4 separate regions of the Homo sapiens genome follow, and all the other regions are linked to region 4. Evidence: fine-mapped expression QTL. A gene starts in region 4. Each other region holds a variant in brackets. All regions are shown on one strand. Distances are between the middles of the regions.

Region 1 (2,679 bases), 38 kb before region 4:
CTTGCCAGACACCAAGTCTGCCCAGCAACCTGGTCTCAAACGTCCGGCCCAGGACTGTGAGAAGTCAGCGTCTGATGCTGAAGCCCCAGTCTGTGCTACTGTGTGACACGGCCCCAGCCGACGAAGACAGTGCCCAAACCAGAAGACGGGCAGGAGGTGGGGCAGGGTGGCTGGCGTCCCAGGAGGCTGTGCAGGCACACCTGCTCATTAAGGAGACACGCGTGGGGAGCGCAGCATCGCAGTGAGGACCCCTCCCGTCCCCAGGCTGAATTCCTCTTTAATGAGACGCCACTTTGGAGAAGCGTTTCAGAGCCCTTCAAAATCCTGGCCTAACTCTCGTCAAAACTGCACAGATTACTTAAGATTTACCGCACAGACACAAACTAAAATAAAATAAAATAAGGCAGCCCAGTGAGAGGCAGCCTCGTGACAGGACCATTTGTAGTCAGATGGAAAAGCCTCCGATTCATCTGCTTAAGCACAGCAGCTTCTGTTTATTTCGCACTTTCATGTCAAATGAATTTGGAAAGAGAAAAAAAGTGACAAGCAGTTAGGGATATAAGTCACATTTCAGCTTCAGTTCAGATTAATGAACTTGCTGGAGCTGGTGAGGGCACCGGCAAATCTACAAATCTCAGAACAACAAAAAAATTAAATCCCCTCAGCAGAGCCTCAGCCTTCAGGGTGACTCCTCCAAAACCCTTCACTGACCTTCTGCCTCGCACCCCTGCATTCCAGGCCCTCTGGGACAGGCTTCACTTCAAGGCAGCAGTCCTGGGGCCCGGGGGAGGGCTGGCCAAGGCCGGCTCTCAGGGACCACTGTGGCATGGCCGAGGTATGCGTAAGGCAGCAGTACAGTAAGCTCCCAGGGTCCCCGAGCCAGAGCAACAGCCCCGTCCTGTGTATTTGGCAGATGCGACGGGCACCACGCTCAGCAGAACAACCCAGTCCCATGCCTCAGCTTCTGGGGAGAGGTGGCACATGGCCAGCACACCGCCAGCATGCCCCCGTCAGCTGTTGCCCCGCCCCAAGCAGCCACATGGCCGGGCATCTGCAGGCCAGGGCAACGCGGCCTCTGATGGGAGCACAGGTGGCACCGTGGATGCCACCCGTTGAGGCAGGAGTCCCGTTCTGCCCTTGGCATACAGGCACTGCTCCTTTTCTCCTCCCACCCTCTGCCCCACCCCAGTCTCCACACATGATGTCTGGCGTGTGCCTCAATGGTGTGCCCATCCTCAGAGACCCTGGCTGGCAGCACACAGAAGCCCCAGAAGCTACTGCCCAGCAGCCTCTGCCTTCCATCTGACAACGACGAGCACTGGCCGGCCACAAACCTGAGGCCACTGGTCAGCACCCAGCCATCTCCCGACCACCTCCCCCAGCACCCAGCCATCCCCCGACCACCTCCTCCAGCACCCAGCCATCTCCCCAACACCTCCCCCAGCACCCAGCCGGCTCCACCACCACCTCCCCCAGCACCCAGCCGGCTCCACCACCACCTCCTCCAGCACCCAACTGTCTCCACCACCACCTCCTCCAGCACCCAACTGTCTCCACCACCACCTCCCCCAGCACCCAGC[C/T]GGCTCCACCACCATCCCCTCCAGCACCCAGCCATCCCCCGACCACCTCCTCCAGCACCCAGCCATCTCCCGACCACCTACCTCCTCCAGCACCCAGCTGGCTCCCCACCGCCTCCTCCATGTTCAGGTCCAGAGAAAGCCGCTGACAGGGAGGAGAGGCCCCAGCCCCTATTACAAACCCAGCCATCAACGGGCCCTGACGCTGTCCTCCAGCCTTCCACATGGGCCCAACATGACCACCAGGCCGACAGTAAGTTTCTACTTAAATTAGGAGGGGGAGAGAGAGGGCGCGTGTGCCAAATCACCCCCTGGGACAGGGCAGAGGCCTAGACTCAGGCCGGGCACTCACTTGCCTACCCTCCTTCCCTCGGGCTGCAGGGAAGGGGAGTTTCTAGAGCTTCCCAGAGGAGGGAACAGGCCTAATCACCCTGAGCCCTCCCCAGTGCCCAGGGCAGAGCTAGGGCCAATAGCTCAGGGCCTGGGGCTCTCCAACCGAAAGCTGAGAGGAACTGCAGAGGGGTCCTGGGGGCTCATGGCCAGGAGAGGGGCCCCTTCTCGTGCCTCCTCAGGGCGGTGCAGTCCCCGCCATGAGCATCACAGCCAAGGGGAGGGGACGGGAAAAGAGGGCAGGGGAGGTCCCAGGGACAGGGTCAGAGAGAGGACAAGGTGAGGGCTGTTGTCAGCAGCAGAGCTGTGCAAGCTTCACTGCGGCAGCCTGTGTTACTGTTTCTTGTCCCCACCTTGGGCAGGGCCCAGTCCCATTCCTCTCAGGACGGGTGGTAGAGGTCCTGCCCCCTCCTCCGTCTTTGGGGTTCCAGCTCAGGCCCTGTCCTGAACACCCCACCACAATCAAGCCTAGAGACCCTACCCATTTCGCATGGTACAAGCAGGCAGGGACGGGCTGTCAGGTTCACGCTGCACTGCGCTGCCCCCAACTACACCCTACCCAAGATGCTCAGCCACTCCCAGCACCTGGGACCTTCATGTGCATCCTGGGGCAGGGTCAGCCTGGCCTTCACACACAGACCCCCAGGGCCTTCCCTCAACACTCAGAGCCCCCTGGGCCTCACTGTACTCCCCACTGCCGTCCCTTCGCAGA
Region 2 (2,679 bases), 88 kb before region 4:
ATCCCTGTACTTCCCGCTAAGTGCCACCGTAACAAACCCAAGCCACCTCTGGCTGCGGAGAAGGTGCTGATGGAAGGGATCGGGGCACGACTGGTGCTGGGTGCCCTTGGGCTGCTTCCTGCCCCATCCAAGACTTGGAGTCAAGGAAGCCACAGCCCAGAAATGCCCAGAGGCACAGGCAAAGGGCAGCCCAGCAAGACAGAAGGTCTCGGGCAACAGCCATCTATTCCAGCCAACACGCAAAACCACTGCACCCCCAGCCAGATCAGCAAAGGCTGAGGAGGGAGCCTGGACTCAACCCTGGCCAGGAGGCCCTTCCCTTCCTTGCCGGGGTGGTGAAAAGCCAGGACATTCACCCCTTCTCCATCCCCCACGGAGTCAGTGGAGGCCATGTGGAAGAGGCACTGTGGAACTCCTTCCCCCAAGGCAGGGAGGGAAGGTTCAGGGAAGGTCTGTTTTCCACACCACCCTCCACAGTGTCAATGAGGCCAAGTGCAGGGAGCTGGGTTTCCACTCCTAGCTGGCAAGAAGGAGGCAGCCCCTCCACCCAACAGCCAGCATGACTAGGCTCCCACAGAAAGTGGCTGCTCACACTAAGAACAAGGGAGGCTCCAAGCTCGGTGAAGAGGGGCAGCGCCAACGCTGACAGACAGGGCGTCAGAATTATTTCATAAAGACAGAACAGCATCACAAAGACACTTCTACATGCAATACAAACATGCTGGAAACAGAAGAAATAGAAAGTATCAACAGAGAAAAAGAAGATACAGTAGAACCAAATGAAAATTTTAGAACTAAAAAATACAATAACTGAAATAAAAAACTCAGTGTGTGGCACAACAGCTGAATGGATGAGACAGAGAACTGGAAGACAGAATAACAGAAATTAACCCATCTGAACAACAGAAAGAAAATAAGGTTTAAAAAATGAACAGAGCCTTCGGGACCTTGGGACCACAACAAAAGACCTAACATTCATGTAACTGGAGATGCAGAAACAGAGCAAAAAGAACTCAAAGAAATAATACAAACTTTACAAATTTGGTAAAACACATAAGCCTATAGATTCAGGAAGTTGAGCAAACCTCAGACAGGATAGACCAAAGACATCTACCCCAGATGTCAGACAGGATAGACCAAAGACATCTACCCCAGATGTCAGACAGTGAAAGTTAAAGACAAAGAAATAATCTTCAAAGCAGCCAGAGAGAAACTACATTATGTTTGTTTTTTTGAGACAGGGTCTCACTCTCTTGCCTAGTGGTACAATCATAGATCACTGCAGCCTCGACCTCCAGGGCTCAAGCAATCCTCCCAACTCAGCCACCTGAGTAGCTGGGACCACAGGCGCATGCCACCATGTGTGACTAATTTTTGTTTTTTTGTTTTTTTTTTTAAAGAGATGGGGTTTTGCCATGTTGACCAGGCTAATCTCAAACTCTTGGGCTCAAGCAGTTTGCCCACCTGGTTCTCCCAAAATGTTGAGATTACAGGAACGAGTCACAGCACCCCACAGAA[A/G]CCACATTTTACCCACTGGGGAAAAATTCAAACAACAGTGGATTTCTAACTAGACACCATGGAGGACATAAGGAAGAGGCATAACATTCTTCAAGCTCAAAAGAAAGAACTGTCAACACAGAATCCCATATTCAGTGAATTATCCTTCTGGAATAAAGGGGAAATCAAGACATTCTCTGATGAAGAAAAACAATGTCACCAGCAGTCTTACCCTAAAAAGTGGTTAAAGTTCTCCAAACAAAAAGGAAACAAAAGAAAAAGGCTTGGCACAACAGGAAGGAATAAAGAACAAGATAAGCAAAAATATGGATAAACATACCAGACTTTCCATCTCTTCCCCAGTTTTTAAAATTATGTTTGATGACTGAAATAAAAATTATAACTGTGTCTGTTGTGGTTCTAACTTCTGTAGAGGAAGTATTCCAGATGGTTATAAAAGGGGAGGTTAAGGGAGATGAGGGAAGGTAGGGTTTCCACACTTCACTCAAACTGGCAAAACGACACCACCAGCAGACGTGGATCAGTCATGCAAATATAATATAATACCCAAGGTAAGCACTACAAAAGCTATATAGTGGTCCTCCCCTTTCCACTGTTTCACTCTCTGCAGTTTCAGTTACCTGAAGTCAACTGTGGTCCAAAAATATTAAATGGAAAATTCCAGAAATAAACAATTCATAACTTTTTCTTTTTTTTTTTTTTTTCCCAGATGGAGTTTCACTCTTGTTGCCCAGGGCTGGAGTGCAGTGGTGTGATCTCGGCTCACTGCAACCTCCATCTCCCGGGTTCAAGCAATTCTCCTGCCTCAGCCTCCCAAGTAGCTGGGATTACAGGTGCCTACCACCACACTCAGGTAATTTTTTTTTTTTTTGTAACTTTAGTAGAGACAGGGTTTCACCATGTTGACGAGGCTGGTCTTGAACTTCTGACCTCAGGTGATCTGCCCACCTTGGCCTTCCAAAGTGCTGGGATTATAGGTGTGAGCCATCGTGCCTGGCCAACAATTCATAATTTTTTTTTTTTTTTTGAGATGGAGTCTTTCACTGTCACCCAGGCTGGAGTGCAGTGGCGCAGTCTCGGCTCACTGCACTGCAAGCTCCGCCTCCCGGGTTCACGCCATTCTTCTGCCTCAGCCTCCTAAGTAGCTGGGACTACAGGCGC
Region 3 (2,679 bases), 58 kb before region 4:
TTTGATCAAGTCCCTGCCAAGACCCTGCAGTGGGTCCCCTCGTTCTCAAGATGACCAGGTTAGAAAGCCCTGCAGGGCCAGGCACTCAGGTCCTGCTGGCCACAGCCCCCATGCAGCCTCTCTCCAGCCTAGAACTCCAGTTCTCCTGGGAAGTTCTGGTTTCTGGAAAGCACTGTGCTCCCTCCTGGCGCCAGGTCTTTGCACGTGCTGTCCCTCTGTCCAGATCCCAGGGCAGGCCTGAGGCCAAGTGCAGATGTCACAGCACTGGGGAGGCCGGCCCTACTTACCACTGGGGAAAATGAGCACAGGGGCCGTATCTGCAAAGACCACTGCTGCACCCCTGGCCCTGCGGATGTGCCGGGCACGCAGGGGGCTCTGTAAATGTGTGTTGCGAGAACACACCCAAGTGTGTGCCACCCTGGGGCTCCCAGGACCTTAAGAGGTCCTAAGGGAGGAGTGTGGGGTGGGGAAGGGTCAGGAGGCCCTGGTCAGTTACAGACACTCAGGAAGGAGACCTGTGGCAGAGAGGTGGCTGCCAGGGCTTGGTCAGCAGATACAAGGAGTGGGCTCAGGCAGCAAGGGCCAGGCGCTGGGAATGCGGGCTGGGGCAAGATGGGCTCTCTGAGAACAAAGGGAGCAGCGGGGCTCAAGGAGGGAGGCATGGTCAGAACACATGCCCTGAGAGCTCCGAGAAGGGCGAGCCTGTCCCTGTCTCCCCAGGACGATGGCAAGGCTGCTACGGACGTGACACAGGGACGTGCAATATGCAGACGTGGAAAGACCCTCGGGGGCATAAGTATGGTGACAGCAGGAGAGGCCAAGGGCTGAGCGAGGTCTTGGCCCGGCCCTAGCAGCCAGAAGAGGCAGGACCACAGGAGCAGGTACCGGGCCACGGGGACACGACCTCAGGGCCTTCTAGGCCGGGGTTGTGTCTGTGTGTGGGCCGGGGACCCAGCAGCCCCTGGCCAGGCCGCCCAGGCCAGTGGCAACGTGCAGTAAACAGGCAGTCCAGCTGAGACACAGAGAAAACAACCGGAGAAGCATTTTCAGGAAATGGAGCACAATTTTTCGAAGCTTGGAGCCCGAGCGGGGAGTGCGAAGTCAGCAGAAGAGGAGCGGCCGGGGGGAGGCGGCGCCGCAGCGAATCCCCAAGTAGGTCAGGCAGAGCTGCGCCATGACAGGCACTAAACTGCTTAAGTGGGGCTTTCCACTGGAAACGCTGACACCCCCATCACCGTGCTGGCTCGGGAGGGCGAGCATGCATGTGTGTCCATGCGTGTGCGCGTGTGGGGCTGGCTGGAAGCCTCCCTCCCGGTTTCTCCTGGTGCTGAGCCACTGCGGCCCCCGAATGGGTTGGCCAGGCTACATGGGGCCCTTGGCTGGAGAGGCCCAGCCCGTGAGGCTGGGGCAATGCAGGGGAGGTGGTTCTACTGGACAGACACTCACAGAATGTCCTGAGTTCCGGAGGAGGAAGACAGAGTCCCTC[A/G]TGGGAGGGGCCCAAGCTGGGCCGGCAGGGAGGGGCGCTCAGGCCAGACAGAGCAGAGGCGTGCAGTGGGGGTGCTAGGCGGGCTCCCGGCTCCTGGACCCTGCCCCCACGATCTCAGGGGCAGGGCTAAATGCTCAAGGGCCTGTGGCTGCCAGGGCTGAAATCTGACTACGTGGTGGCCACGCAGGCCTCACGATGGCTATGGCCACCTCATCTCACAGAAAGAACCCTCTTCTAACTTACTCCTCACAAGTCTGGCCCCCTATCCTCCAAACCCCTATACCCAGACCGTGGGGCCCTCACCAGCTCCAAGGGGCCTCCAGGTACCTGGGGCAGTAGCTGCTGTTCAGCAGGGGCTCCGGCACCATGGCCAGATGGGCTCTCTAGTCCCGCTGTCACCCCCACAGCATCTACCTCCCAGTATGGGGGCCTGCAGAGACCGTCCAGCCGCTTGGCTTTCCAGGATACACCTTCAGCAGGCAGGCAGGGTTACAGGCCTGGGTGGGAGCTGAGAGCCCTGCACCAGCGGCCAGGGGCGCCATGAGGGGAAAGAGCCATGCAGCCTTAGGGACAGCAGCCTTGTTTGGGGGCCCCTGAGGACAGGGACAGCCTTGAGTGCGACTGGTCCAGCTGAGGCTGAGCACGGCTGGCTCCCCCGGCCCCTGGGCTGACTCGTGGGGTGGAGGCTCTGTTGTGACATCTGAGGACTTCCTCACTGGGCACTGGTCCTTCCGAGGGCCATCCCTGCCCCGTCTCACCCCAGTAATGAATAAGAAGGATTCGGAGGCGCCTCTGCAGCCTGGCTGGGTGGCAGGGGGCAATACTAATGACACTGCCTCCGTTACAAACGTCGTGCTCCATTATGAGGGGCTGGGACTATTTTATGTATTTTATGTGCTCACATCTATTCAATTGGTATTTCGATCAATGGATGCATTACAAGCTTTCCCTTTAAGAGCCTAATAAACAACAAGATGGAAAGTAAAATTCTCCATAAAATGACACTTTTAAAAATCCATTTCAGCTGAAGCTATTGGTGTTTTGTATGTCAGCTGCAAAAAAACAAGTATTAGTGGGACTTCATGGCCCCGGAGTGCCGAGTTCAGCTCGTCCGGCAGAGGTGCCAGGCGGCCAGGTGCAGCTGTCCTTGGCGGGCCCGCGACCCTCTGCACCTGTGCCACCCTTTGGGCTGG
Region 4 (2,679 bases):
AATGGGCTAGAGTCCTACTGCAGTGAACTGACACAACCACAGGACTTTCCAAATAAGTCCCTGGATAGCTACCCCGGTGCAGGAGGGCCAGGAACACAGGCAAGGGCGGCAGCAGCCAGCCTCCCAGTTATCAGCATTCCCCCACCACAGGCCCTGCCCCCGGGGGCACAGAAAGCCACGTCCAGACGTGTTGACGCCCCAGAGCAGGTGTGATGGGAGCTCAAGAAGTGTCCCCAAGTGGGAGGCAGCCCACCTGGCCTCTTATCCATACACACTTTCCCAATCCTTAAGTCTTCCCTTTGTGAGAGTAAAAGCAAAAAGGATTTTTAATTTTTAAAGCTTTTTTTTGTTTGGTTGGTTTTGGCTTTTTATTTGAGATGTGGTTTTTCTCTGTTGCCCAGGCTGGAGTGCAGTGGCCCAATCACGGCTCACTGCAGCCGGGACCTCCAGGGCACAAGCAAACCTTCCACCTCTGAGTAGCTGGGACTACAGGCGCAAGCCACCACGCCCATCTCACTTTTTAAAATTTTTCTGTAGAGACGGGCTCTCGTCATGTTGCCCAGGATGGTCTCAAACTCCCGGGCTCAAGCCATCCTCCTGCCATAGCCTCCCAAAGTGCTGGGATTACAGGTGTGGGCCACTGCGTCCGAACATGGATTTTCTTTTTAAGTTTAGAAAGACCAATTTGGGTTTTTTAATGTTTAAGTGTGGAAGCTGAAGCCTGTTCAGTCTGCGCCTGGAATGGCAAGGGGAGTGTGACTGTTCGGAGAAAAGGGGCATCAAAACCGGGCGTCGAGGCTGGGAGCGGTGGCTCATGCCTGTAATCCCAGCACTTTGGGAGGCCGAGGCGGGTGAATCACCTGAGGTCGGGAGTTAGAGACCATCCTGGCCAACATGGTGAAACCCCGTCTCTACTCAAAATACAAAAATTAGCCAGGCGTTCTGGCGCCTACCTGTAATCCCACGTACTCCGGAGGCTGAGGCAGGAGAATCACTCGAACCCAGGATGAGGAGATTGCAGTGAGCCGTGATCGCGTCACCGCACCCCAGCCTGGGTGACAGAGCAAGACTCTGTCTCAAAAAAAACCGGGCGTCAAGGAAGGAACCCGCGTGCGCCCTTAGCCTGCTCTGCCGAAATGAGCCATGAACTAGTCCCAGCCCCGCAGTGGGGCGCGGGGAGAGAGTGGGCGCCGGGGGACGCGACAGCCCGCGGTGGTGGGGAGGGCCGCCGCCCCCCGCGGGTTACTAAGCGACGGCCCTGCCTCCACCCTCTGCAGCCCCAGCAGGGCCGGCACCACTCCCTCGACAAAGCTGGAGCCGGGGACTGACCCGGGCCCTGAGCCGGCCCACAAGTCCTGGCGGACCCTACCGTCCCCCACCCCAGCCGCCACCCAGAACACGCGGGCGGTGAGCGACCCCTTCGACAAGGGGGCAGGGGACCCGCCGCGAGGTGAGGGGGAAAGAAGGGGACTCGCGTCCCGGCCCCGGCCGGACCTACCCTGCAGTAGGCGGATCTGCCGCCGTAATATCTCCTTTTCCTCCATCTCCCGAGTCCGCGACGGCCGGCCAGGCCCCCACGACGTCATCGCTACGCGACCTTTTTCCCGCGGGCGGGGCGGAGCGGGCCAGGGCGGAGCTGCCAGGAGCAGGCCCGGATGTCTGCCGACCGCCGAGGACCCGCCGTCGCGCTGACAACGGCAGCGGAGAGGCAGAGCCGCGCACGCGCAGAACGAGGCGGGGACGTCACTAGTGAGCGCCGGGAAGTGGCCTGGTAACGGCTGGGAAGGGACTGCTTGGGCTCTGGGAGGCCGCGCGGGCCCAGCTTGTGCAGTCCGGGATCGCGTCCCCTTGGGAGACTTGGCGAGGGGCGAGACCTGGGGCCCACCCAGCCCATACCGCAGTTCCTTCCCACAGTCCCTGCGTTTCATTTCGCCCCAGTTGAGTGTTGGGGGGGGGGGGGTCTACGCGGGGACCCATGGGAGAAGGGCCAGTTAACAATTACTCTTGACCCAGGAGGGTCTGTGAAACCTCTTACTGTGGCCAGAGGAGAAGACATCGGAGAGCAAGGTTCCCTGGATAGACATGTTGAACCTCTGAAAACATGAAAGTTTTTAGTTCGTCATTGGAAACATGTACAAGTGTAAACCTCTGTGCGCTGTTGGTGGGAATGTAAATGGCGCAGCACCGCAGAAAACTATGGAGATTCCACAAAAGGTTAAAAGTAGAACTACCGGATATGAGGGCGATCTGGCTGCGACACCTGTCATCCCATTGATCGCCAGGGTTGATTCGGCTGATCTGGCTGGCTAGGCGGGTGTCCCCTTCCTTCCTCACTGCTTCATGTGCGTCCCTCCCGAAGCTGCAGCTCAGTCGAAGAGAACGACCATACCCAATAGAAGAGCTGGGCTTCCCTGGTAGAACCTCCAAACAAGCTCTCAAGGTCCATTTGTAGGAGAAGGTAGGGTAGTCAAGATTCCAGACACATCCAAATGAGGCGCTGCATGTGGCAATCTGCCTTTCTAGGAGAAAACAAAAATGGAACTACGGTATGATCCAGCAACCCTACTTCTGGCTATATTCCCAAAAGAATGGAAACCAGAGACTCAAACATATTTGTGCCCCCATGTTCACTGCAGCATTTTTCCCAATAGCCAAAAGACGGAAACAACCCAAGTGTCC

The links. PIP is the estimated chance that this variant, and not a neighbour inherited with it, causes the effect. A credible set is the group of variants that fine-mapping cannot tell apart.
Region 1: its variant is the best candidate, but not a certain one, in a credible set for the expression of ZC3H3 in subcutaneous fat (GTEx, PIP 0.85).
Region 2: its variant is the best candidate, but not a certain one, in a credible set for the expression of ZC3H3 in whole blood (INTERVAL, PIP 0.88).
Region 3: its variant is the best candidate, but not a certain one, in a credible set for the expression of ZC3H3 in nasal epithelium (TOPMed, PIP 0.62).

The regions. Positions count from the first base shown.
Region 1 is chr8:143,502,130-143,504,808 of GRCh38, forward strand. All of the region lies in intron 4 of ZC3H3 (zinc finger CCCH-type containing 3), which reads right to left. Among named protein-coding and RNA genes, the nearest start is that of SNORD149, 2.8 kb to the right of the region's middle. The variant C/T (reference allele first, on the strand shown) is at 1,581.
Region 2 is chr8:143,451,874-143,454,552 of GRCh38, forward strand. The region is part of intron 9 of ZC3H3 (zinc finger CCCH-type containing 3); the gene reads right to left. Among named protein-coding and RNA genes, the nearest start is that of MAFA, 22 kb to the left of the region's middle. The variant A/G (reference allele first, on the strand shown) is at 1,519.
Region 3 is chr8:143,482,024-143,484,702 of GRCh38, forward strand. All of the region lies in intron 4 of ZC3H3 (zinc finger CCCH-type containing 3), which reads right to left. Among named protein-coding and RNA genes, the nearest start is that of SNORD149, 23 kb to the right of the region's middle. The variant A/G (reference allele first, on the strand shown) is at 1,487.
Region 4 is chr8:143,539,878-143,542,556 of GRCh38, forward strand. ZC3H3 (zinc finger CCCH-type containing 3) reads right to left here and starts at 1,570. Exons shown (of 12, transcript NM_015117.3): 1 at 1,499-1,570. The coding sequence starts at 1,544. It also overlaps the pseudogene RN7SKP175.